7 linked regions of the Homo sapiens genome follow. The protein of the gene in region 6 purifies or fractionates together with the protein of the main gene of each other region. This does not show direct contact. Each region holds a gene or a part of one and is shown on either strand. Other genes may lie near its edges.

Region 1 (3,500 bases), on a different chromosome or scaffold from region 6:
AGCTATCATAGTATCACTGCACTCTAGCTTGGGTGACAGAGTGAGACACTGTCTCTAAAAATAAAATAAAACTAAATTGAACATTAAAAAGATAAGCTCCTCCACTGCAAGTTAAACTATCCTGTCCCATTTGAGCTAACCGTATACTGGCTTGGGTTTGAAGAGGGCTTCCTGGGAGGATGTACCTGGGATAACCATATGTATCCCACATTTCAGAGGTCTCCCCTTTGTGTGTCTAAATGAAATCAGTAAACCCCAAAGAAAGCTAAATCCTAAAACCAATATTATTTTGATTGTGCAGGTGTTACTGAATCTGATAAATCCCCTGGTGCCTTGAGCTTTAGTAAATACTCTAAGATGTGATTCTCCTTTTATGGTCTCTAGAAGCGTGGTTTTAACTGTGATTGACGTGGTGTGAAAGTATATATGCCAAATTAATTGCCACCCTGTTGAAATAACTTGGGGAATATGCTTCAAAATATGAGTATGTTCAAAAGGATTGTTTTCCCCCTCAGGTTCCATTCTTACCATTTTTGCCAGCGTTCAGCATCTTGGTGAACATTTACTTGATGGTCCAGTTAAGTGCAGACACTTGGGTCAGATTCAGCATTTGGATGGCAATTGGTAGGTCTTTTAATGTCGGGTTCTCTTTCCTATTTCATGTGCTGTGATGAGAGAAACATGCCCTCTCCCCCATCCTGGGAATAAAGGCTTTTTTTTCCCGCTTCTTTCTTTCCTAATTCTTAGGGATGTCCGAGTGCTTTTCCAGATGTTTTCAGATGCCTTTTTAAGTCAGTATCTCCCACTAACCCTGTAGAACCATGTAGGCTCTATTTCCTTCTACTTATGGGTGAAAAAAATGAAACCCAGAAAAAGTCATTTTATATCAACCCAAAACTCACAACCAATTTTCTAAAATAGAACTAAAACAGCAAAATGCCTACATGTCTGCAGTGATCTTAGGAGGGTACTTAAAACGTTGCCTCCTGATCCCCACACAGTCAGTGTGGCTGTTAATAAACAGTTGCTTTGCATACAGTTCTTCGGACTCTCCTGGTGACAGTGACACGTGTAAAGCATGTCCGTGTCCTCTTTGTTAATACAGAGTGTACTTTGCAAAATATCTGATCTTGACTCTGATAACTCACCACTTGTATTTAGGGTATAATTTGAGACTTTATTCCACATATCATTTTGTTTAAAGTACAGTATTGACTTCTAAGAACATCAATTAAAATTTTTCCATATAAACATTGAAAAACTTGTTGAGAGCAAAATACAGTCTATAAAGTTTGGGTCTTCACAATAGAGAGGCACATTCTACCAGGAAAATATTGATCAAGGACACCTTCTGTGGGGTATCTTACATTTGCATTTCATTCTTCTAAAGCAGCGGTCCCCAACCTTTTTGGCACCAGGGACGGGTTTTGTGGAAGACAGTTTTTCCATGGACAGGGTGGGGGATGGTTTGGGGATGAAACTATTCCACCTCAGATCATCAGGCATTAGTTAGATTCTCATAAGGAGCATGGAACCTAGATCCCTCACGTGTGCAGTCCCTTCTGTGAGAATCTAATGCTGCCCTGCTCTGACAGGAGGCAGAGCTCAGGTGGTAATGTTCACAATGGGGAGTGGCTGTAAATACACTGTAAATACTAGAGACTGCTTGCTCACTTCCTGTTGTGTGGCCTGGTTCCTAACAATAGTGGTCTGTGGCCCAGGGGTTGGTGACCCCCGTTCTAAAGTACTACAGAAAGGAAAGAGACAAACTCTATTAAGTTCTACATTTTCCACCTCAATAACTTAAAAGTCATTTTCTGACATACCTGAAACATTGATTTTTTTTTTTCCTGCCCCAACAGGCTTCCTGATTTACTTTTCTTATGGCATTAGACACAGCCTGGAGGGTCATCTGAGAGATGAAAACAATGAAGAAGATGCTTATCCAGACAACGTTCATGCAGCAGCAGAAGAAAAATCTGCCATTCAAGCAAATGACCATCACCCAAGAAATCTCAGTTCACCTTTCATATTCCATGAAAAGACAAGTGAATTCTAACACTTGCAGGAGCAGAGCTGGTCATCGTCTTAGCATACATATCCTACACTGAGTAAACCGTAACGGGATGTCATCAGCATGCTGGGTTGTCATGGGTTTGCTGCATACATAGTTCACCCTAATTTATACTTACTCATCTGGACAGCATCTCCTCAGATGGTGAATTATGTGCACGGGGAAACCTCCTGAGTGGAAGTTTCATTCATCAGTGATGAATAGCCCCCAAACAGTGGGAGTGTGTATGTATGTGTGTATGTATGTATCTATGTATATGCTTGGGAACATGAGTGTTACAAGTTAGCTGGTGTTTTACTATTATTGTGTTACATTTTTCCAGTGTCGTCATTAATCGGTGGCATATACTGCACATACTGAAATAGAGGGAAATCACTGAATGTAAAGAGGTTTCATCTATGCCCCCTGCAGTTGGGGAAATACTAGTAGCTTTACCTTGTTTGACTTCATTAATGTCAGTTTAGGGGATGCCAAAAATGCAGTTACTCATCATGGTGTCTGTCACTGGTTAGGGGTAAGATGAGGGGATAAGGAAAGAGACTTTTCAATAAGTTGTGAATGCCAACAGTGGGTTTAATGCAAATTTTTTTTCCTGTGAGGTATGACAGTTTGCTCAAACTTCAGCCAACAGGGGTGTCTGCTTCTGCTGCACTACACAGGCCAGGAGTGGCATTCCATGCCACTAGTTGGCATCCTTTTGAACTTTTGTCTCCTTTGCAAACAGTGGTCCTAAAATACGAGGTCTTCACTTGCTGTGAATGACGTATCCCCAGTCAGGGACTTAAGAGAGGCACTGTGATATACTTGGGACCCTTTAAATTAAAAAGTGAAGATAGTCACCAGGGCCAGAAAGCTCATGGAGTGGCCGTAATGAGAATATGTTTGAAGATCAAAGAGTTAGACCAATGCTTGAATAAGTAGACCCCAAGCATCCTTTTCTAAAAAGTGACTTAAAATAAGCCAACAGACTCTCCCAGACCACACAACTAGTGGAATGATTCCTCCTTTTTCCATTACTTACTTAATCACAGTTTAGTTTTTTTCTTAACCTCGTCAGGCCCAGAGTTCACTTCTTTGTTTCTCTGTTTCTTTTGTCTTGTCTTAGAGATGAGGGGGCTACAGCAGCATCATGCAAAGAGGGAAAGATGAAGGGATAGAAGAAGAGAAAATCCCCCTGTTCTGATAGGAACGGCCTGTTCCATTGTTAAATGGCAAATGGCCCAATTTAAGGGCTTTGGATCTAATTTGCCTCTGATGTTTCCTTTGGAAACATTTAGGAATATTTTTCTCCCCCTACCCCATAAATTGTGTAGCACTTTTTATTCCATTTGCTTTCAAATGACTACACTAAGCCTAATAATACAAGCTCCAGTGTTATACAATAACCCATCAGTGATTGGGGAATCAAACATTTTGGTTTAAAAAA
Region 2 (3,500 bases), on a different chromosome or scaffold from region 6:
AGACCAAACATGACATCTTTGTTCCTCAGACGAGGGCATGGGTTTAGAAAGAACTGAACTCTTTGGCTGTGGTTTAGGGTTTAGCTAAGAGGGCATCGCTGGGGGTTCCATGCTGACCGACCACACATGGGCGTCGAGCCGTCCTCCTCTTGTCCTTCTCTTCACCACAAGGTGGCACTCAAAATTGTTGACTAATTATGAGTAGACTAGTTGGTAAATGACACTCTTGAAGTGAAGCCACAGGGGACCTGGGAACCTGCACTCGTGCTGACCCCCGTGTCTGCCTGGTAGTTCTGACCTGGGATGGCAAGATGTCGGCGGTCAGTCAGGATGCTATTGAAGACAGCAGACAGGCCCGGACTGAGACCGTGGTTGATGACTGGGACGAAGAGTTTGACCGAGGGAAGGTATGATGTGTGATGCTGACCACAGGCTTGAGGGAGCAGGGCGGCGTGGCTCAGCTCAGAGCCGGGGCAGTTGGAGGTGGCGGCAGTGGCATGAAGCGGCCGAGCATGAGAAGAGCCAGGCTGCCCAGGCCTGTCCGGGCGTGTGGCCATGGACAGGGCATGCATCCTCGCAGCTTCCGCCCCTTTGTCAATAGGGGGACTGCAGGTCGCCGTGCACAGGGGTCATTGTGAAGAGTGGGTCTCCAGAGAGCTCATGAGAGCCCGGCCTGTGTGCAGGACCTGCATGCAGCATGGAGCCCCGTGGGCCAGGAAAGAGCCGTTTTTGGGAACTGTGATGCCTGTGATTCTTGGTCTAGGAAAAGAAAATTAAAAAATTTAAGAGAGAGAAGAGGAGAAACTTCAACGCCTTCCAGAAACTTCAGACTCGACGGAACTTCTGGTCTGTGACTCACCCAGCAAAGGCTGCCAGCCTCAGCTATCGCCGCTGACTGTGCCCCTGTGGAAGGAGGTCGGTTCCGAGGGGGTGGGTGTAAGGGTGAGGTGGGGGTGTGTGTGCCGTGTATGTGTGTAGGGGTGTGGTGGGGTGTGGCGTGTGTGTATGATGTATGTGGGCTGTGTATCTGGCACATGTGTGTTGGGTGGTGTGTGTGGTGTGGGCGCGTCTGTGGTGTGTGTCCTAGTCACTTGGAGAAGGGTGTGTGTGGGATGCGTGTGTATAAGGGGGTGTGTGTGGGATGCGTGTGTATAAGGGGGTGTGTGTAGTGTGTGTTGGGTGTGGGGTGTGTACACCTGGCATCTGTGGCATGTGTTCTGGTCACTTGGAGAAGGGCATGTGTGGGGTGTGTGTGGGATGTGGGTTGTGTGTATATCTGGCATGTGTCCCAGTCACTTGCAGAAGGGTGACTTCTTGCCAGCCGCATCGAGATGCCATGCATTGGGTTCCTAGGTTGGACTCATACCCGAGGGTGGCAGTGGGAAGATTCGGGTCTCGTTTCTCTCTGTCAGGACTACCGTGGTTTGTTCTGCAGCCTCCTGGAGACAAGGCGTCCCTTCCCGGGAGCTGTCGGTCTGGATCTGAGGGAGCTCTCTGTGTGGGCTCTGCTGCGCTGGGAGCCTGTCACGGTAGGAGCTCTCCCGGTACCAGTGTCCACAGACCGCCCAACACAGAGGCTTTGAGGCTTCTCTAGATCGGAACCTCTTTGGTGACATTCCCGACCAGCCCTGCAAGAGAAACGACAGTGTGTGTGTGAGCAGAGGTGGCCGCACACCTGCTGGACATCTTTGCCAGGCTGTGCCTTCTCATGTTTCATAGACAGTGGTCTGTGCTGGCAGAGGCTGCTGCCCCTGGTTGGGGCTATCAGGAGAGTGGGGGATGGTGGCCACATGTCCCCCAGGTGGTCTCCCGGTGCATAGCTGGTGGCTCTGGGCAAGCCATCCCTTGCTTCTCGGGGCTGACGCCACCGTTGTGTCCGAGCCCGCCCTCCCCTGCTTCCTCAGCGGGACCCCTTCATCTGTTGGCCTTACCTGTCCTCAGAAAGGAAGAGGTGACCCCACCCAGCCACCTCTCCCTTTTATGGAACTCGAGAGGGTGGCCCTACTGTGCACCCCTTCCTTGTGAGTAGCTCTCAACTGTCCTGGAGAGCAGAGGCTATTTGGGGTCGGAGGAGCCCTCGATACCTGCGAATACATCTGCTTTCCAGGCTGCTGTTTATTCTGAGACGACTGTGCTGTAGCTTCCCTTGCAGCTGCAATAACCCGCAGGTCTTCACTGAGGTGGAGGCTTTGGGGTAGAATTCTCCATTTATTTTACTACTTAATACAAAACATTTATTTTTGACCAGTCCTGTGGCTTCCATTAGCAATATGTTTCCTTTCCCAAATATGCAAATAGTGGCTTTGTTTGCTCAATTTTGTGAGTGCTTTGGAATTTAAATGATTGTATAACTCAAGAAGATTACTTTTCTATGTTGCTCAAGCTGTGCCTGCCAACTTGTAACTTAATAAATACAGGAAATCCTCAGAGAAGGTGATATTTTCAGGAAAAAGACAAATGCCCTCATAGTAGTGGGAAGTGTGAAGGTGACCGTGAACATCCTTCCTCATCGGGTCTGTCCCCGTCATTTCCTCCCGGAGTCGTCGCAGGTGGAGATGGACAACGTGGTGTTGGACTTAGACCTCCTTCAGTGTGGCTCTGCTGGGCCAGAGGCATCCTGCTGTCCCGGGTGGCTGCCTCGCTGTCTGCACCCCCTCTCCCTGGGGCAGCTTTGCTTCCTGCCCCTGTGCTCGGGGCCTGGGTGGTTACTGGCGTGTAGATGGAATTGCTTTTTTAATATGGGAAGATACATTTATTTTTTTCCATGTGGGTGGGTGTCTCTTTTTGGATTTTCTTCTGTTTTTACGTTTCTCTTCTTAGAAGGGTGGGAGAGAATCAAGCTCCTGTGGCCACCTGTGTCCCAGCAGCAGTGAGTGGAGCTGCTCAGGGTGCCCTCTCCTGCGGACCAGTCTCTGAATGTTCAAAGATGAGGGCCTGGCTTCCGTGCTCTGGCTTTGTAACTTATCTGGAAGGGAAAGCACATGCCTTCACGGGCAGGGTATGTTCCTTTTCTTCTCGGGGTGTTGACTTGCATTCCTGTGTGAACTGTTCCCTCTGCCATGTTTACCGTGTGATGTTCTGTAGTTGAAAATGTTAGTTGTCTGCTGGCACAGAATTTATCTCGTTCCTTTCTCTCCCTTCTCTCCTCCAAATCAGTCTCTTCCCTTCTCCACTAGATAACTGTAAAACCTTTTCCTGGGGTACATACATTCGTTAACTCTTGGGCAGTGGTGAGCACGAGATGACTTTCTGCAGCGTTTATCACTGTTGGGTGGAGTCACGTCCCTTCCCTCCACCGAAGTCATCAACCAGATAGGGAAGGGAAAGATGAGGCCCAGAAAACGAGTTCAAACTCTAGGTCTTGTACACGTATGTAAGTAAATGTCAATAACCCAAGCCTTTGTCATAGCAGTCACTTGGTTGACTTAGGATCTGGGTCTGTTGAATTTTGTGCTTGGGAATGGAGCTGGAGGGAGTGGGGCCTGTGTACAGCAGCTACC
Region 3 (3,500 bases), on a different chromosome or scaffold from region 6:
TTTTTTTTTTTTTTTTTTTTTTTTTTTTTTGAGGCAGAGTCTTGCTCTGTGGCCCAGGCTGTGGTGCAGTGGCTCGATCTCGGCTCAGTGCAACCTCTGCCTCCTGGGTTCAAGTGATTCCCCTGCCTCAGCCTCCTGGGTAGCTGGGATTACAGGTGTGCACCACCACACCCAGCTAATTTTTGTATTTTTAGTAGAGATGGGGTTTTGCCACGTTGGCCAGGCTGATCTTGAACTCCTGACCTCAGGTGATCCACCCGCCTCAGCCTCCCAAAGTCCTGGGATTACAGGTGTGAGCCATTGTGCCTGGCTGAAACCACAATTTTAAAGAAATATATATATTATTATCTTCCAAAGCAGAGTTTGTGTCTTCTTAGATTATCTCTCTTGGGACAAATTTTACAACAGCAAATTGGTACCATCCTTATGCAAAAAATCCTTTTTCTGTCAAGGCTTTTCACCATTCTTTAGCTCTCACCTACCAACAATCATCTTCAGTGAGGACTTTGCCACTTGATTCACAGTCTGTATCAGTGCCCTCCAGTCTTCCAGGTGATTACACTGCCTGTCAATGTGGACAGTGTACCCTCTAGCCTGGCTTCCAGTATCTGTCACCTCCATTTTTCTTTATCGTCCATGCCAGAGCCAGGCCTTGGAGTTTGCCACCACCCAACCCTGAACTTCTCTTGAATTCTTGAACCCCCTATATTCTCTTCCACTTTGCTGGCACAATTCTGGCACTCCTTTCACCTCTCTCACCCTTTTCTGTTTTTGGCTTAGAGACTTTTTCTACCCTATTTTCCCAATTCTGTTCTGTTGAGAAGCCTGCCTTTGATCACCGCTCCATCTCTGTATACTACCTTTCTTTACCTTTGTCCACTCAACTTGAACTTCTGATCAGATCCCTACAGCCCTCTCACTAGTACTCTCAAAATCCTGTTCCCCTTGTCCTTTTTCATTTCTATTCTGGATGTTCCTAATCTCTAGTCACTCCATGTTGAGCACTGCTGGTGGAGGGTGGAAGGTTGGAAATCAGCACAGATTGGCACTGCTGTGAATGTTTGAGTTTCAATTCCAACTGAGTCCTTGGCTTTTTTTGGCAGTCTTTTAACTTGATTCATTCCCCATAGTAGCTATTGTAATGCTTGCTCTGCTCCTCAAAAATTCTCTATACCCTTTCACTTTTGGAGTCAGATTCCCACCACCTCCACAAATTTTCTGGCCATCTTTCCTCCTAATCTTAGACAAGAGACATAGGCTGTCAGTCCAAGCTCCTCTTGGGACTTTGTCCCTTTTGGTTAATTCCTTTCTTCCCTATTACTTCTTCCATCCCACTATCTCCTTCTCTTTAGTTTATCATCATACTCAAGCCTCACCCTTTTTGAGAAGGAAATTTCACTTCCAGGCCTGGGGTGGCTCACGCCTGTAATCCCAGCACTTTTGGAGGCTGAGGCAGGCGAATCACTTGAGGTCAGGAGTTGGAGACCAGCCTGGCCAATACGGTGAAGCCCAGTCTCTACTAAAAATATAAAAATTAGTCAGGCATGGCAGTGCCTGCCTGTAATCCCAGCTACTCGAGAGGCTGAGGCAGAAGGATCGCTTGAACCTGGGAGGAGAAGCTTTCAGTGAGCTGAGATCGAGCCATTGCACTCTAGCCTGGGCGACAGAGCAAGACTCTGTCTCAAAAAAAAAAAAAAAAAAAACTCACTTCCCTTATCCCATTTCCAACATTTTTTTAAACGATTTTAGTTTTTTACCATTTGAAATTTTTTGAAATAGGAATCTCTCCTCACTGCCTCACCTATTAACCTCTTATCCCATTTACTGTCACCCTGGCTGGAGTGCAGTGGTGCGATCTCGGTTCATTACAATCTCTACCTCCGAGGCTCAAGCAATCGTCCCACCTCAGCCTCCTGAGTAGCTGGTACTGCAGGTGTGCACCACCATGCAGGAGTACAGTGGCACAATCTCCACTCACTGCAACCTCCACTTCTTGGGTTCAAGTAATTCTCCTGCCTCAGCCTCCTGAGTAGCTGGGATTACAGGGGCCCATGACCACACCCGGTTAATTTCTGTATTTTTAGTAGAGTTGGGGTTTCACCATGTTGGCCAGGCTGGTCTCAAACTTCTGACCTCAGATGATCCACCCACCTCAGCTTCCCAAAGTGTGTAACTCTTTGTAGTAAAGTTGCTGTAGGATTATCTACTCAGAGTTGGTGTTTAACAGTATTGGAGTTTAATGTATATTGGTGTTTAATGTTGACTACTAAATTCAAACTCTTTTTTTTCAGACCCTATCAGATTTGGATATGTCCTTCATATTTGATTGGATTTACAGTGGTTTCAGCAGTGTGCTACAGTTTTTAGGTAATGTTGGTCCTTTGTTCTCTACAGTTATCCCCTTTGGTCTTATTTATTTAATAGTGCTTATCTGTGTCAAGTCTCTTTATAGATAAGCCAGTAGTAAAGAATAGTTAAGAATATGGGCTTTGAAATCATACATAGATGTTCAATTACTCATTGTATCCCTTTTAAATTAAGTAATCTTTGGCAAATTACTTTTTTCACCTTAGCCTGAGTTTTCTTATCTGTAAAATGGCAGTAATAATTCCTACCTCTTAAGGTGTTGGGAATATTACTAACAGAACTATCTACCATTTATTAGCTAGTTTACCTATATGCTTTAATGCTTTATGTCATTTAATCCTTACAGGATTATTATTAAAATGCATGTTCCATAAAGTAGCTTGTACACCATAAATAGCAGTTTTTAATAAGCCAAATGAGACTTCTTTACCCAGCAGTTCTTTTTTTTTTTTTTTTTAATTTTATAGAGACGGAGTCTTGCTATGTTGCCCAGGCTGGTGTTTTGTTTGTTTGTTTGTTTCTGAGATGGAGTCTCGCTCTGTCGCCCAGGCTGGAGTGCAGTGGCGTGATCTCAGCTCACTGCAAACTCCACCTCCCAGGTTCAAGCGATTCTCCTGCCTCAACCTCCCGAGTAGCTGGTACTACAGGTGTGTGCCACCACACCAGCTAATTTTTGTATTTTTTGTAAAGATGGGGCTTTGCCATGTTGGCCAGGCTGGTCTTAAACTCCTGAGCTCGAGTGATCTGCCCACCTCAGCCTCCCAAAGTGCTAGGATTACAGGCATGAACCACTGTGCCCAGCCTTGCTACAGTTTTTTCTTTTTCTTTTTTTTTTTTTTTGAGACAGAGTCTCACTCTGTTGCCCAGGTTGGAGCGCAGTGGTGCGATCTCAGCTCACTGCAACCTTCGCCTCCTGGTTCAAGCAATTCTCCTGCCTCAGCCTCCCGAGTATCTGGGATTACAGGCATATACTATCATGCCTGGCTAATTTTTTGTATTTTTAGTAGAGATGGGGTTTCACCGTGTTGGCCAATCTGGTCTCGAACTCCTGACCTCAAATGTTCCACCTGCCTTGGACTCCCAAAGTGCTAGGATTACAGGCGTGAGCCACTGTGCCCGGCCTCCTTGCTACA
Region 4 (3,500 bases), on a different chromosome or scaffold from region 6:
TAACTGGATAAAATATGCTCCTGGAAAATGACTTGTTATTTCAATGTATAATGCTTAGTATTCAATATTACCCATTTTGAGATAGAAATATTTCACAGCTTAATAGCAAACTACTATTATTTAGAAAGCATCTTTACTTTGGTAACATTTAACACTGATTATAACAGTACTTAAACCATTTAATAAGGTTTTCAAAATTTTAAAGAAATTTAATTGAGGTTCTAATATGAAAAATCTGCATATATCTGTGTAAAGGTTCAGATCTTGACTAATAAATAACTATACACTCTACCAGTCATGGGTCTGTTATCGGTATTCATCACAAAATGCTTTCAATTTGGCCTACCATATTTAAGATAATGAGTTTTAACCAGGGTTGACAGCAGTAATGTTTGGGGCAGTGGTGGATAGAGAAAGACAGGTAGGCACTAGGACCTGGGAAACAGGATATTTTGTCTTTGAGCCCCATTTCAGGAAAAGGCTAGAAGCTAGTTTAAAAAGTCAATTCAAATCTATCTAACTACAGAGAGAGGGGCAGCAAGAATAGGGTGAACTTAGGACTATTAACCAGTACTGCTCTAGCTAGGTGGATCTGAAATGATCTTGTCCATGCCAAGAAGCCGTCCTCCCTGACTTACCCTAGATTAACCTCATTTATGAGTCAGTGCTATGGGGTTAATTCTAAATTACTCAGTTGCATATAGTGTGAATTAAATATAGAGAATGTTTTACAAAATATTTTTATTGGTATTTTTATCCCTAAAATAGGAAACGGCATTTGAAGTACTTACCATCAGCACTTTATCCATATAGAATTCTCTGCCAGGGCTCCCATCATTGTATTTTGTATCAATGGCAAAACACAAGAATAATACATCCACTACCATTTCATAAATAGACAGGAAGCAATGAGCGACTAGGAAAGCAAAGAGGCAGACGATGATCAGAGGCAGCACCCATACTGTGTAGTCCTGCTGGTAGTTGAGCAGCATAATCCCAGCTAAACCTGTGCTGCAGACTATCAGCACCTGAAGCAGAGAGAACAAAGATCATATTTAATATCCTACTGAAGAAAGCCACTCTTTTTTCACCATTTGCAGACTTAAAATTCTACTATTTATAAATGATGGTTGCATGAGGCCATTCCATCTCAAATGAGGAAATATAATCCACATATTCTCATATACACCCAGAGTTATACATGCTTATCATATAATATAAATTTTAAAATCATACTTTAAATGATTCTGGTTTAAACATAATTAAGTTTTCCAAATGCTATGCTGCACCCTAAAACTTAATCTATTTAGAATCTGTGGCAATTTTTAAGATAAATGTATGCATATTTTAGAAAAAATTTACAAACTCTTAGCACTCAGAAAAAAAGTGATATTTCAGTGTAATGGTATGTATTTTTTCTAAGCATTTTCACATATATGAAATAGTATTATATAAACAAATCACTATAAGCTTTTCATTAATATACATAGAAGTATCATTATAAATGCTTCATATTTACTCAGCTACATAATTTCATTTTATGAGTGATTTAAAATACATGTAACCATTCTCTTACTGTTAGAGATTTATATTGTTTTCAGATATAAATAATGCTGCAACAAACATGTATAGTCTTAGAACTTTTTCTGTGTTTCGTATTTTATTTCACATAGAATATGTGGTAAATATAATTTGCCATGAAGTGTATATTTGGACTCTCTGTGAAGAAAGAGGTTGCCAAAAACATCCATGCTAAAAGAATAAAAGAAATAGCCAATTTAGTTATTGTCAAGAACCACCCACTCTGATGCTTATTTCACATGCAGCATTTTAAATTTTTTGTGGTTTTTAAAATACATTTTATTCCAGCTTTTCAATAACCCTATGAATGGTTTATGGCAAATATTATCATCCCATTTTATAGCCTTGGAAACACACTTACAGATGCCACCCGACCTGAGTAGAAAAAAAAGAGTAGATCCAAGGTCAAGGTCATAAAAGTAGGAAAAAAGAACAGATCCTACTCAAATAATGGTCTTATGATGTCAACTCCAGTGCTCTTTTCAGATAAAAACTCAGAAATATTTGGATATTGATCCACAGCAGTAATGGATTCTACTGAATTCTAGACACACTCTTTCCCAGCTCTTTATTTTGTCTTGTATAAGGCTTTAAGTAAAGGGAAAAAAGAGACCCCTAGAATCATGGCAGCCTCTTCTTGTCTAGCATTAAGAATAATAGGCAGACCATGAATTCTTCTTTGGCATTTTCTCCAATATTTATCAACATCAAGGCATTTCTCATTCACCATTATCTTAACTCGGAGTTAAAATGCATTAGATGATACATTGGTTAAGCTATAAATTGATCCCTCTCTCAGATGCTTCTAGGGAGCAAATCTGGGTCTGCCCAAGCTTTGGAAGACTCCCCACCATTTTTGTAGCAACACACTTATGAATCTTCTCTTATAGTGACTTATTTTCTGGGGTTATTTCCATAGATGGTTAATTACTTCCATTTTTTTTCTTTCTCATTTTCTGGGGTTATTTCCATAGATGGTTAATTACTTCTATTTTCTTTTCTTTTTCTTCTTTTTTTTTTTCGAGACAGAGTCTTGCTCTGTTGCCCAGGCTGGAGTGCAGTGGCATGATCTTGGCTCACTGCAACCTCCACCTCCTGGGTTCAAGCAATTCTTCGCCTCAGCCTCCCAAGTAGCTGGGACTACAGGTGCTCGTCACCACACCTGGCTAATTTTTTTTTTTTTGTATTTTTTAGTAGAGACAGGGTTTCACCATGTTGGCCAGGCTGGTCTCGATCTCCTGACCTCAGGTGATCCGCCCGCCAGGGCCTCCCAAAGTGCTGGGATTACAGGTGTGAGCCACCGCGCCTGGTCATTACTTCAATTTTCTTCCACTCTCCTGGTTTCAATTTTAGAGTGAGTTATTTCCTATACTCTCCAAATCTTGCACATTCACCCTCTTGGAGGGCTGAGGTTCTTCATGCTCTCACCATGCCATTAAAAGTTAAACCCCTTTGAAATGGTAAAGTTAGTTATAGAAAAAAGGTATGGCTCAAACAAACTAGACGCTGAGACAAAAAGCTGGTGAGATGGAAGTTTAGATATTCTCATGCAGGAGGTAACTTCAACAATTAGTGATGTTTAGCCAAAAAAATGTAGTAGTTATTCCCAAATATAATGAAAGAGTGTTATGCACTTATTCAAACAGATACATTAATGGTTCTCAAACTGTAGAAAGGCTAAGAATGCAGATTCCTGGGCCCTAATCCCAGAGTCTGGTTGGTTGGATCCATGATAAAGCCCAGTAGTTTGCATTTAAAAAGTATCCCAGGTGCTGATAAAGACTATGTCTCAAGAAGTACTGGTCTATATCAGTGATCTCCATGGTGGATGGAGATCCACATGGATGGAGATACCCACGTCCTAGGGAGTATTTAACAGGATCACCTGGGACTTCTATTATATTTCTCATACATTTAAA
Region 5 (3,500 bases), on a different chromosome or scaffold from region 6:
CGTGCACCACCATGCCCAACTAATATTTTTGTATTTTTAGTAGAGATGGGGTTTCACCATGTTGGCCAGGCTGGTCTCGAACTCCTAACCTCAAATTATCTGCCTGCCCTGGCCTCCCAAAATGCTGGGATTACAGGGGTTAGCCTCCACGTCCGGCCTAAAAATGCAGTCTTAATCTAATAATGCAGGAACACTTGAAGAAGCCACAATGGCAAACAGTCAAATTCCTAACTCAAAATTCTCTCTCTTTTTTAAGACAGAATCTCACTACATTGCCCAGGATGGTCAAGCTTCTAGGCTGAAAAGATCCTTCCATCTTCAGATCAGAATTCTTAATGACATCACTCATTTACTTTGTGTATTTTTGACAAAAATTACATATACGATGGTGTACAACATAATATATGTATATATTGTAACATTTACTTTAAAAAAAAAATCTATTAAAGTGAAATGACCACACATCCTGGTTGGCCTGGGACAGTTTGATTATGCTATTTAAGTAAAAATATCAATAGTGATCCCTTTCAGTCTGAAAATAATCCAGTTGGACCATTAATCATATGGCCATCTTACACAGAGAAGATCTGAATATGTTCACCCAACAAAGAATCAGTATTCAGTTATTAGGCTTAATATTTAGTCTGGAAGGATAAAGCACCAGTAGTTTTAGACACTAGCCACAGGTATTTTGACGTGGTCATTTATTTGAACACCTGAAACCATCCTACTACTGACCTGGCTGCCAAACAAGCCTACACATATAAGAATAACCTGAACATAAATCGTAACATTTTGTCTATAAATATTTACCTGAGGTTCTTGATTCAACTATAGAAGCAGCAACAATCCAATCAATAACAACTAATTAGATAAGATGAAGTAATTTTACGAAATCCTTAGAAAATACAGCAGTTATTTGAAAAGTAACTTACTTTACAGCATTTGGATCCAAACTAGCATATAAGTAATATAAGCATTTCATTCTCTCTTCTGTTTCCAGGTTGTGGGGGACAAGATACTGAGCAAAGATTTTCTCTACCAACAGTCTAGGAAATAACAACAACAAAAAAAACCTAAGTGACACAATTATTCCATTTTTAAGAAGCAATTTTTTTTTTTTTTTTTGGAGACAGGGTCTTGCTCTGTCACCCAGGCTGGAGTACAGTGGTGCAAACTCGGCTCAATGCAACCTCTGTCTCGCAGGTTCAAGCGATTCTCCCACCTCAGCCTCTCCAGTAGCTAGGACTACAGGCGCGTGCCACCATGCCCAGCTAATTTTTATATTTTTTGTAGAGACAAGGTGTCCCTATGTTGCCAAGGCTGATCTGGAACTCCTGAGCTCAGGCAATCCGCCTGCCTTAGCGTCCTGAAGTGCTGGGATTACGACGGGCATGAGGCACCACACCCAGCCAACATTTTAAGTTTTAACCATCTTATGCCAGGATACCATATCAAGATAATAGCTATGTGTGCACATACAATGGAAGATATCAGTTTATAATGACTTCCTTCTTGGAAAGCTTTCAGTACAGTTTAACTTTAGAGACACGGTTACTGTCTGTGGCTTTATAATTTGTCAGTATGAAACATTTGTTCTAGAAGGTTTAAATGTTATTCCTAAACACAGGGTGCTAGGCTGTTCCGCCTATTCTTCTTCAGCAGTCTAGAACAAAAGCAAATTCATTAACGCAACATATAAAGCTATGATCCGCGGTAGAGCTAATTCTCAAGAAACTCATTAATTTCCTCTGATTACAGTTCAGCCCATTTTCCATGTTGTCACATAGTTAAAAACAGGGGGACCCCCCTTCATATTACTTCCAGAAAATGTAGTTTTTCCTGTGTACATCTGATTATTGTTCTCTCCATGATCTAAATTCCTTACCAATATTGGAATATCCTTCTTGCTAGTACCTATTGCTTGTATCTTCTTGCTTCTATTATTTAATATCACTGGATTAAGAATATACAAGATCTCTTAATTAACAAATGAAATACATATCCAGTGATGCCAGAGAAGTTAGTTTAATTAAACAAAACAATGGAAACTATTCTGCACACACCAAGTATCATTTGTACGATCCAATATAGAATTATAAGTAATATTCAGAAAATGAAAACAACTTAGTAATTCCTCTATTGGTAGTGGTGTAAAAAGGAAAGTAACTAGCAGTTAACTCAATAGTGCTCTCTTGCCACACATTGGGCTAGGATGCTTTATATTCATTATTTTATTTAATCTACATGATAATCCTGTGGGAAAGGCACTATTATTTTTCCTTTTTATATAAAACTGAAGCGCACAAGACCTTAATGAACCTATGTAAGAATACACATCTAATAAAGGGCAGAGTGAACATTTGGTCTCTAACTCCAAAGTTCATGCCTATTTCATATTATAAGGCTACCTTATAATCGTGGACAGTCTTGTTTAAACACAGTACATAAAAATATGTAAAAAGCTATCTCTAAACTTAGAAATAAATGATTAATCAAGTTGAATAAACTTAATTTTATTTATGAAGTAAATACATAAAAATAAGAAATTACTAAAATATTAAATAGACATTTTTTAAGTAAAAAGTAGTTTTACACTCAACCATTCTACCAACATATTAAACTCACTTGTCGTCAATGCTGTTCTGATAATAAATATGCAGAAGTTTGTCCTTTATCCAGCTGACTTTCTCTGCAGCTTCCTTTCCTGCTTCACCATGAAGACAGTATTTCTTATAAAGCTGAGCCAGACCCATCATAGCTTCTTTTCTTACTCGCCACTAAAAAGCATAAAATTTATTAGATGAGCAAGATAACAAAACTCTGTACTAATCTCCAAAGACTGCCTTGGCTTCATTAGGTTGTACAGTCTTATGTGTGCCTTTATAAACTGGCACACTATTTCTCTTCAAAAGAGGCTTTACAAACAATTTTATTTTTTTTTTGAGACGGAGTCTCACTCTGTCGCCTAGGCTGGAGTGCAGTGGCAGGATCTTGGCTCACTGCAAGCTCCGCCTCCCAGGTTCACACCATTCTCCTGCCTCAGCCTCCCAAGTAGCTGGGACTACAGGCGCCCGCACGCCCGGCTAATTTTTTATTTTTAGTAGAGACGGGGTTTCACCCTGTTAGCCAGGATGGTCTCGATCTCCTGACCTCATGATCCGCCCGCCTCGGCCCCCCAAAGTGCTGGGATTACAGGCGTGAGCCACCGCGCCCAGCCTACAAACAATTTTGAATCTGTTCCTATTTAGAAATTTTCCAATGCAAATATTGCTAAATGATCTACTTTTTTCTTTTTAAAGAAATGGGGTTTCGTTACGTTGCCTAGGCTGGTCTCAAATTTCTGGGCTAAAGTGATCCTCCTGCCTTAGCATCCTGAGTACCTAGAACTACAGGTTACTGATTTTTTATTTCCCTTGAAAACTATTAATAACCTTATGGGAGAGTTCATTTGATTCTATTGAAAGAAAATTCACCAAGTTTTAGAAGTGATTATAATT
Region 6 (3,500 bases):
TATTATTACTTCATAATTACCTGAAGTAATTTCCAAATAAGGTCATTGTATATTCCCAAAGGGAAGGTAGTTTTTGGCCTGTATAGAGAATTCATGTGAATTACAAGCCAAACTTTATACACAAGCTTTCTCTCATGCCTAACTAATTGCAAGGTATTTTTAATAATCAAAACAAGAAACTTGGATTCAGAATATCTTCATTCTTTGATCGTTGATTCATATGACCTTCTGGGTCTTATTCTTAGTGAACAGGGTTTACCCAAAGCCACTGGACTTTTATAAGCTATCCACATCAAATGTAAATATTGACAAATACCCCCAGAAGGTGTTAAAAATACCAGACTGTATCCCACAGGGTTCATTTAACAATAACAACAGGATTTTGAGTCACAGAAGAATAAAATCTCCTTTGGTTCTTCACATTTTCATTTGGTTTTGGCTTTAAACATCAGGCAAAATTCCAGGTATTTGGGTTTCAAAAATACTGGGCTGGGCTAGGCTAGGAAATGGAAACTAGAGGGATGAGGCAGTAAAAATGTTCCAAGTGATGACAAGAGGCTGAAACATGTCAGAAGGGAAACAAAGAAATGTTAGACGGTAAAACAAAGGATAGCAGAGTTTCTTTAAAAGCAGTGTAGGATGCATGATGCAGAAGAAAAGAATTTTTTTGTTCCACATAAATAAATTTTAATAATGTCAAAAAGCCATTTGTCAGAGGTTTGCAGCACATTTATTTAGCTAGTCACTTACACGCTAGCTCATTCGTTAAGGGCTGAGGTTGCAGGAAGCCCTATAATTGAAGAGCTAAAGAGACAGCCTAGGCTGGGCATGGTGGCTCATGCCTGTAATCCCAGCATTTTGGGAGGCAAGAAGGGATGATTGCTTGAGCCCAGGAGTTTGAGACCAGCCTAGGCAACATTGGGAGACTCTCTCTCTCTCTGTCTCTCTTTTTTAAAGAGAGACAGCCTGATTTACTATATGACGGGGCTCAGTTGCCAATCACTCAACATCATCCAGGGAGGATTACAAATTACATTTGTTTTGGTTGATAGGTTTCTGGCATTGTTGCCCACTTCTGATGTTGGGTTGGCTTCCATCCCTGCAGTCCTGGGCCAAGGAATGTTGGCCACAGCAGGTGAATGTGGCATCACACTGAATAGCAGGAAACACCCTGGGGTTCAACCCAGCTGCAACTGGGTTTGGTTGTTGAAAGAATGTATGAATGAGCAAGTACCAAATAGACAGCATTCTACTTGTTTGGGGAGGGGGGACGTACAAACTCTCCATACGTGCAAAATAGGCACATCAACATTCAGAATTAACTGCCCAACTAATTGAGGTCCAGGAAGGTTCAACTATATCTCTGAGGGGCTAGAGGGCTCCAGCTAATATTTGGATTATATATAGAACTAATTATTCAAGTGAGGGAAAAGAAGTGTCAAAAGAATGTTCAAATTCCGATTATGTGGCTGAGGAAAATAAACACTGGAGAGTACAGAGCATTCAGATGTATTTGTGAGTGATGTGCAGAAAGCCGCCAATATGATGTTGATTTGTTTGGTTCTCTCCAATTTTCAGTTAAGAAAACAACAGATGCTATTAATAGTACGAGGACAAGATGAGCTGAGAAACTACCTTTACTTCCTCCCTCCCCTGCCTGAAGCTGGTCATCCAGCACCTCTCTGCTCTGGAATTTAGACTGAAAAAGAGGAAGCAGAGGCCTGAGGCCACAGCCCCAGGATGGGAGTGGTGCTGTTCCTGTCTCTGAGGTTGGGGATCCACAACCCCCTAGACATTCACAACTTCTGACACCTGAGCTTTAGGAATAATTACTTTTTTGGTTGTTGTTGCCTTTTTAAAAGTGTCATTGCAAACAGAATCTCTCTTTCAAGCTTCCCAAACTAGTATTGCTAATTTTTCTTTCCTCAAGAAAGGCTTCATGACTGAAGATAAAGTAATTGTGACAGTTTCCTTTAACATAAGAGTCCTTGTAAGCACTTGTCTCTCTTCTTAGGGACAAGTTTTTATGGGAGAAGAAACATGCTTACTGCTGATTTCGGCTTAGATGCTAAATATGAGGGTCTGATGTGTCTTCTTCTACAGACCAGATCTTTAGCTCAAGAATCCCCATGCATGGGTGTTAGAATTTCAGTCACTTTTGCTTTGCTGTTTAACCTCTCTCCTTTATAGATCTTACCCAGTCCCTCTGTGTAGTTAAGAGGAACTCGAATGGCCATTATCCACTCTGCTATCTTCTGAAGAGTAATTTTCACCCTAGCAGGTCCTGATCGCTATCCTCAGCACTTAGCAGAGAGCCTGGCATGTAGTAATGCTGAATGAAGATTTGCAGATTGAATGAATAAATGAGCCCCAAAGACTCAGGCTCAAAACTGGGCTCATACTCTTCCCATTCCCCAGGCCATCATTTCTGTTACTACCAGAGTAACATCCCGCGAGCATCCTGGAAACCTCTTCACCTGCAAACAGTGGCCAAATGGAAGCACCTGAAAGACCTACGCTATCTCTCCACAAGGAAATAGCTGCCAAAAAATAAATAAATAACTGTGAAGGAGAAATTAGAGAGTTGTCATGCAAACTTAGACTTGTCCAGAGACAAACCAAGTGATGTAGGCAGATTAGAAGCAAGAGAGAGGGGTGGGGAGGAGCTGAGGTGCTGAGAAGTAACATGCAGTAGACCACCCTCTCCAATTCCCCCATTTTATAGATAAGGAAACCACTGCCAAATTCACACAGCTAGTAAGTGGAAGAGCCAAGAAGTAAAATCTGGGTGTTCTGACGTCCCATCCAAATCTCTTTCCACTGCTCCTGTCTGCCACAGCCCTGTACAGTCCAATGGTGCCCAGTAAGTCCAGGAAAAGTCTTCAGACTGCATTTCAGGGCTTGAGGTAGCAGGCCTCAGCTGTCAGCGGTAAGCGGAAGTAGAAGAATCCAGCCTCTGTGTGGAAGCATTAAAACCTGCTGACTCTCCCATTGCCTGGTGCTTGAACCCTCATAATCATCTTTTGATTACACCCTCTCCTGAGCCACCCCTGCAAAGAGAAGGCAAGTACAGCCGGCACTTACTAGGGGCTGGCCCTGTGCTAAGCACATTATGTGCACTACTATCTCTTGTAAACCCCACAGCACCCTAGGGGTGGAGACAACAATCACATACCTCACACATGTGGAAATGGAGGTTTCATGAGATTAAATAACCTGCTCCCAGTCCACAGATTCTAAGTGGTAGGAAGGGGACTTGATCCCAGTCTCACCCCCACGTTTACTCCCTTAGCCCTATACCTACCAGACAGAATGCCTTTTGCAGCTGGTTCCCGTGGATTTGGTCTCCTCAATTACCAGAGTTCAGGTGTTATCATCTCACACTTGGACTGCTGCCTGGCCTCTTTCCTCACCCTCTTCTCTCTTGTCTTCTCCCTCCCACCCTTTTCTGCTCATCTTCCAAAACCGTGATTTCCCTATGTAGCTGGGAGGGTTTTTCC
Region 7 (3,500 bases), on a different chromosome or scaffold from region 6:
CTCCCTCCAGTTGAGCGAGTTTGCAATGGACGGCAGTGAGGTCACGGCCAGCAGGGACAACGTGCCGAGGGCCAGCACTCCCAGGGAGAGGTAGATCTCCATCCGCCAGACCTCCTCCTCCACCCAGAGGTGGCTCTTGTTGGCCAAGACCTGACATGGATGGAAGGAAAACCATGAACACTGTGGCAAAGGCTGGTGCCCCGGGAGGGCAATGATGAAGGACACAAGAAAGACAAGACGGCGGGCGCTCACACTGCACCTGACGCTACCTGGCTCTGTGATAAGCGTTTCTCAGGCATTAACTCATCGAATCCTCAAAACCACCCCACAAAGTAGAGATCACTATTAGCCCATTTTAGAGATGGAGGAAATGAGGCACAAAGATCAAATCACTTTCCCAAGGTCACATGTAGCTAACAGATGCAGAGCTGGGATCAGGACCCACTCAGCCTGGTGCCAATGACCGGGGCTCCTGGGGCTTTCACATATCTGCCCCGGGGCAGCCAATCAGAACAGTCACATCAGCAGAGTAAGGAGTCAACCAGAAATACAGCCCTTAAGCATGGCTCCGTCTCACGGTTTTCCGGCCCCAGAATCCCAGGACAGGAGAGAGGAGCTCTCCTAGCTCTGAATCCCCTCAGCCAATGAGCTCACACCTTACTGGCTGCTTCCCTTCCCAGCCTGTCTCACCCTGAGCCCTCTGTCTTCCTGGAGCCCCACACTGCCCCCATCACTGGCTCACACTCAGGACATACAAAGACACATACAGACACTGAGCCCCCAACACTCCCCGACCCAAAGCTCTCAGCCTCCCCTCTTCCTACCCAGTTCTCTACTTCTGCCTGAGGCACACAGCCTTGGCTCAACTTTGCCAGGCAAGAGAGACTGACGGCCATTCACCAAGCAGTTCAGTGACCACTTACGAAGCACCTACTGTGTGCCAGGCCCTGGGCTACAGAAAATAAAGATACCTGCCCTTACCCTGCCCTCACAGAGATCTGGGCCCCCCCACCAAGTTCCAGGACATATAAATTGGGGAGCCCCTATGAACCTGGAGATTTCTGACCCTTCTCTCCCCACCTTGCCACTGAGCCCCCTCCTAGCCCAGCCAACACTCACTCGCATAGTGCCCTCATGAGGAAGAACTTTTATCAAGGTGCAACTAGACCGGGTAGCAGAGTTCCTGGAAGTCAAGGTGTTCTCTGTGAAACACTGTGAAATGCTGGTACTTTTATTCTATAATGTCAGCAGAACAAGGAACAGTATTTCCATTAGAAGATGTGACTACACTTTAATAGGCAGCCTCTCAAAACAGAATGACTCATACAGGTTTTTTGAGAAACAATTTCAGCAGAAAAAAAAAAACACGAGCTCAGTTACCACATAAAATATTAAAAGTGAATCCACTGGGCTGAGCAAAATGGTTGTACAGCTTATAAGAGAAAGTTTAAAGAAACAGAGAAAATGCCATCCATTGAGTGCTTTTCCTGCAATCTGTGAAAAATGATTGGCTCTGTTCTATTTTAGGGCAGGCCTGGCTCACTTTGGTGACTTTAAGCCACTAAGGGACCAGGAGTCTAGGGACCCAGCCTCTTGTCCTGACCACCAGTGGCATGTGACTCTGGCAAGACTGTCTCTGGGCCTCAGTTTCTCTACCTAGGAGGTTTGGATGAGGTCATGTCTGAAATTCTCTTGATTTTGCTTATGTGCCTGCTGTGGTTGAAGTCACCATTAGCTGGAAAGGCGTGCAGAGGGCAGAGAGGTCTCCTCCGTACCTCTGCCCAGAGAAGTCTTACTCACACCTCACAGCATGAATTGAGTAAGTCATCTCCTCGCTGGAAGTTGTTTGTTCTTTAACTCTGCTTCATTAGTCATTCCTCTCTGCGCCTCGGGAAGATCAGGCAGTTAATGTCACAAGTCAGAGTTTGGATGATTACACACACGTATACCACATTGGCTTGTAAAATGCCTTGTTTTTTTCCTCTAACATTTCCAGTCTGCAGTGACGCTGGGAAGGGAGGGATGAGGTGGGCTAGGGAGCAGTGGATGGCAAAGACCCGCATGAGGACAGAACCTAAGCCAGCCTTAGGAGTCCATGAGATTCTCAGCCAGCCTATTAAACCACAGTGTTGTGCTCAGAGCTCCCTGGTGACCAGTGGCACACATGGCTAACTGGAACGCAGATGTAACAGCTCCCCTAGTAAGTAAGTCTCTATGTTTAGAGATGATCAAGTTCACCACCTTCTCCTTGAGAAGGCCAAGGAGAGTGTTCATCAACAAGAGATGGAAAGACAGCATTCAGGTGTGGGATTTCCCTCTAGGTTGCAGGTCAGACGCTGAAGGACCAGTGAGGCTGCAGCATTAGCCCCTCTCCATGTCTTCATAGTGGGTGATGGATGGGAAGAGAGTGGTACCAACTCACTGCCTGCCAGACTCAGAGGAGGAGGGGGTGGCAGGGTGTGGAAGGGCAACCTTGGGGCATAGAGACCATAGGCCTGGATTCTGACGCTGACTCTGCCACTGGTGGGCAGTCATGAGACCCTGGGCAGTCCCTTTCCTGGCTCATAGCATCATTGTATCTTGCTGTGTTACTGCAGGACTAAAAGCATTACGTTTGTGGAATGAGTAGCATGGAACAGGCACACAGTGGGCACTTAATGTAATAAATGGCTGTTGTTCTTAGTGGCAGCAAGGCAGTTAGACTAGTTCTTGCTCCAAGCTCTACGTGCACTCCTCTTAAGATGCCTGATATTGGCTCTGTGGTGGCCAATTTAAAAATCAGTCACTCAGTGAGCATGCACTGTGAACCTGTGTTAGGAACCATGGACCCCAAGGTGTAGAAGACCCAGTCATGGACCTCTGAGTCGGGTATGAAGTAGTGTGTAAGAAAAATAATAAAAAAGTATTTACAAAATGCAACAGATTACAGAGGCAGGTATGGGGAAGTAAGGGGATAGTCTGGGGGAGCTTAACAGAGGTAGGGTTTTGAAGGAGGAATAGGAGTTTGCAAGCTGTCAAGGTGTCCTGGGGTGGGCGTTCCAAGCCGAGAGGAATGAGCTCTGCCCATTTAGAGGACAGTATGGGACCCAAGTGTTGACACGTCACAGGAGAAGGGGAGATGAGGCTGCGGAGGGAGTCTAGCTGCATAGTGAGGGTTCTACCATTATCCCAAGGACACTGGGGTCACTGGATCTTTTCAGCAGTGACATGGTCAGATGAGAGTTTCAGACCATCCTGTGCCAGCCATGTGCAGATGTAGCTTGGGGTGAAGGTAATAGGAGAACGGGGTGAAGGTAACAGGAGAACAGTGTGCAGGTTAAACATTTCTTTGATCTTGATCTTTGAGTTTGATGTTGAAATGTGTATTTCCAGGGAAATACACAAGCAAATCCAAATGCCCTGTACAAATATCGGTTATTGTTGGTAATAATACTGTCTGTAAACATGGTCTCAAAGGTTTTCTCTACAGCTGGCATACACCTTTGCCTCCTAATCTGCAG

The links.
Region 1: the proteins of NT5E (region 6) and SLC7A2 purify together in Homo sapiens (affinity purification with mass spectrometry; 3 studies listed by BioGRID and IntAct, with this or other methods). This does not show direct contact.
Region 2: the proteins of NT5E (region 6) and USP36 purify together in Homo sapiens (affinity purification with mass spectrometry; 3 studies listed by BioGRID and IntAct, with this or other methods). This does not show direct contact.
Region 3: the proteins of NT5E (region 6) and SAR1B purify together in Homo sapiens (affinity purification with mass spectrometry; 3 studies listed by BioGRID and IntAct, with this or other methods). This does not show direct contact.
Region 4: the proteins of NT5E (region 6) and SLC44A1 purify together in Homo sapiens (affinity purification with mass spectrometry; 3 studies listed by BioGRID and IntAct, with this or other methods). This does not show direct contact.
Region 5: the proteins of NT5E (region 6) and PDS5A purify together in Homo sapiens (affinity purification with mass spectrometry; 3 studies listed by BioGRID and IntAct, with this or other methods). This does not show direct contact.
Region 7: the proteins of NT5E (region 6) and STEAP3 purify together in Homo sapiens (affinity purification with mass spectrometry; 3 studies listed by BioGRID and IntAct, with this or other methods). This does not show direct contact.

What each region holds. Positions count from the first base shown.
Region 1 is NC_000008.11:17,563,088-17,566,587, forward strand, and holds part of SLC7A2 (cationic amino acid transporter 2), read left to right. Parts: intron 1-515; coding exon 516-624; intron 625-1,862; coding exon 1,863-2,059; 3' UTR 2,060-3,500. UniProt on the Homo sapiens protein: Functions as a permease involved in the transport of the cationic amino acids (L-arginine, L-lysine, L-ornithine and L-homoarginine); the affinity for its substrates differs between isoforms created by alternative splicing.
Region 2 is NC_000017.11:78,795,815-78,799,314, reverse strand, and holds part of USP36 (ubiquitin carboxyl-terminal hydrolase 36), read left to right. Parts: intron 1-291; coding exon 292-407; intron 408-763; coding exon 764-895; 3' UTR 896-915; intron 916-1,412; exon of another isoform or gene 1,413-1,435; 3' UTR 1,436-3,500. UniProt on the Homo sapiens protein: Deubiquitinase essential for the regulation of nucleolar structure and function. Required for cell and organism viability.
Region 3 is NC_000005.10:134,622,829-134,626,328, reverse strand, and holds part of SAR1B (small COPII coat GTPase SAR1B), read left to right. Parts: intron 1-2,291; 5' UTR 2,292-2,309; coding exon 2,310-2,367; intron 2,368-3,500. UniProt on the Homo sapiens protein: Small GTPase that cycles between an active GTP-bound and an inactive GDP-bound state and mainly functions in vesicle-mediated endoplasmic reticulum (ER) to Golgi transport.
Region 4 is NC_000009.12:105,380,651-105,384,150, reverse strand, and holds part of SLC44A1 (choline transporter-like protein 1), read right to left. Parts: intron 1,029-3,500; coding exon 792-1,028; intron 1-791.
Region 5 is NC_000004.12:39,901,412-39,904,911, forward strand, and holds part of PDS5A (sister chromatid cohesion protein PDS5 homolog A), read right to left. Parts: intron 2,781-3,500; coding exon 2,629-2,780; intron 1,050-2,628; coding exon 936-1,049; intron 1-935. UniProt on the Homo sapiens protein: Probable regulator of sister chromatid cohesion in mitosis which may stabilize cohesin complex association with chromatin. May couple sister chromatid cohesion during mitosis to DNA replication.
Region 6 is NC_000006.12:85,456,583-85,460,082, reverse strand, and holds part of NT5E (5'-nucleotidase isoform 1 preproprotein), read right to left. Parts: intron 1-3,500. UniProt on the Homo sapiens protein: Catalyzes the hydrolysis of nucleotide monophosphates, releasing inorganic phosphate and the corresponding nucleoside, with AMP being the preferred substrate. Shows a preference for ribonucleotide monophosphates over their equivalent deoxyribose forms.
Region 7 is NC_000002.12:119,251,334-119,254,833, reverse strand, and holds part of STEAP3 (metalloreductase STEAP3), read right to left. Parts: intron 151-3,500; coding exon 1-150.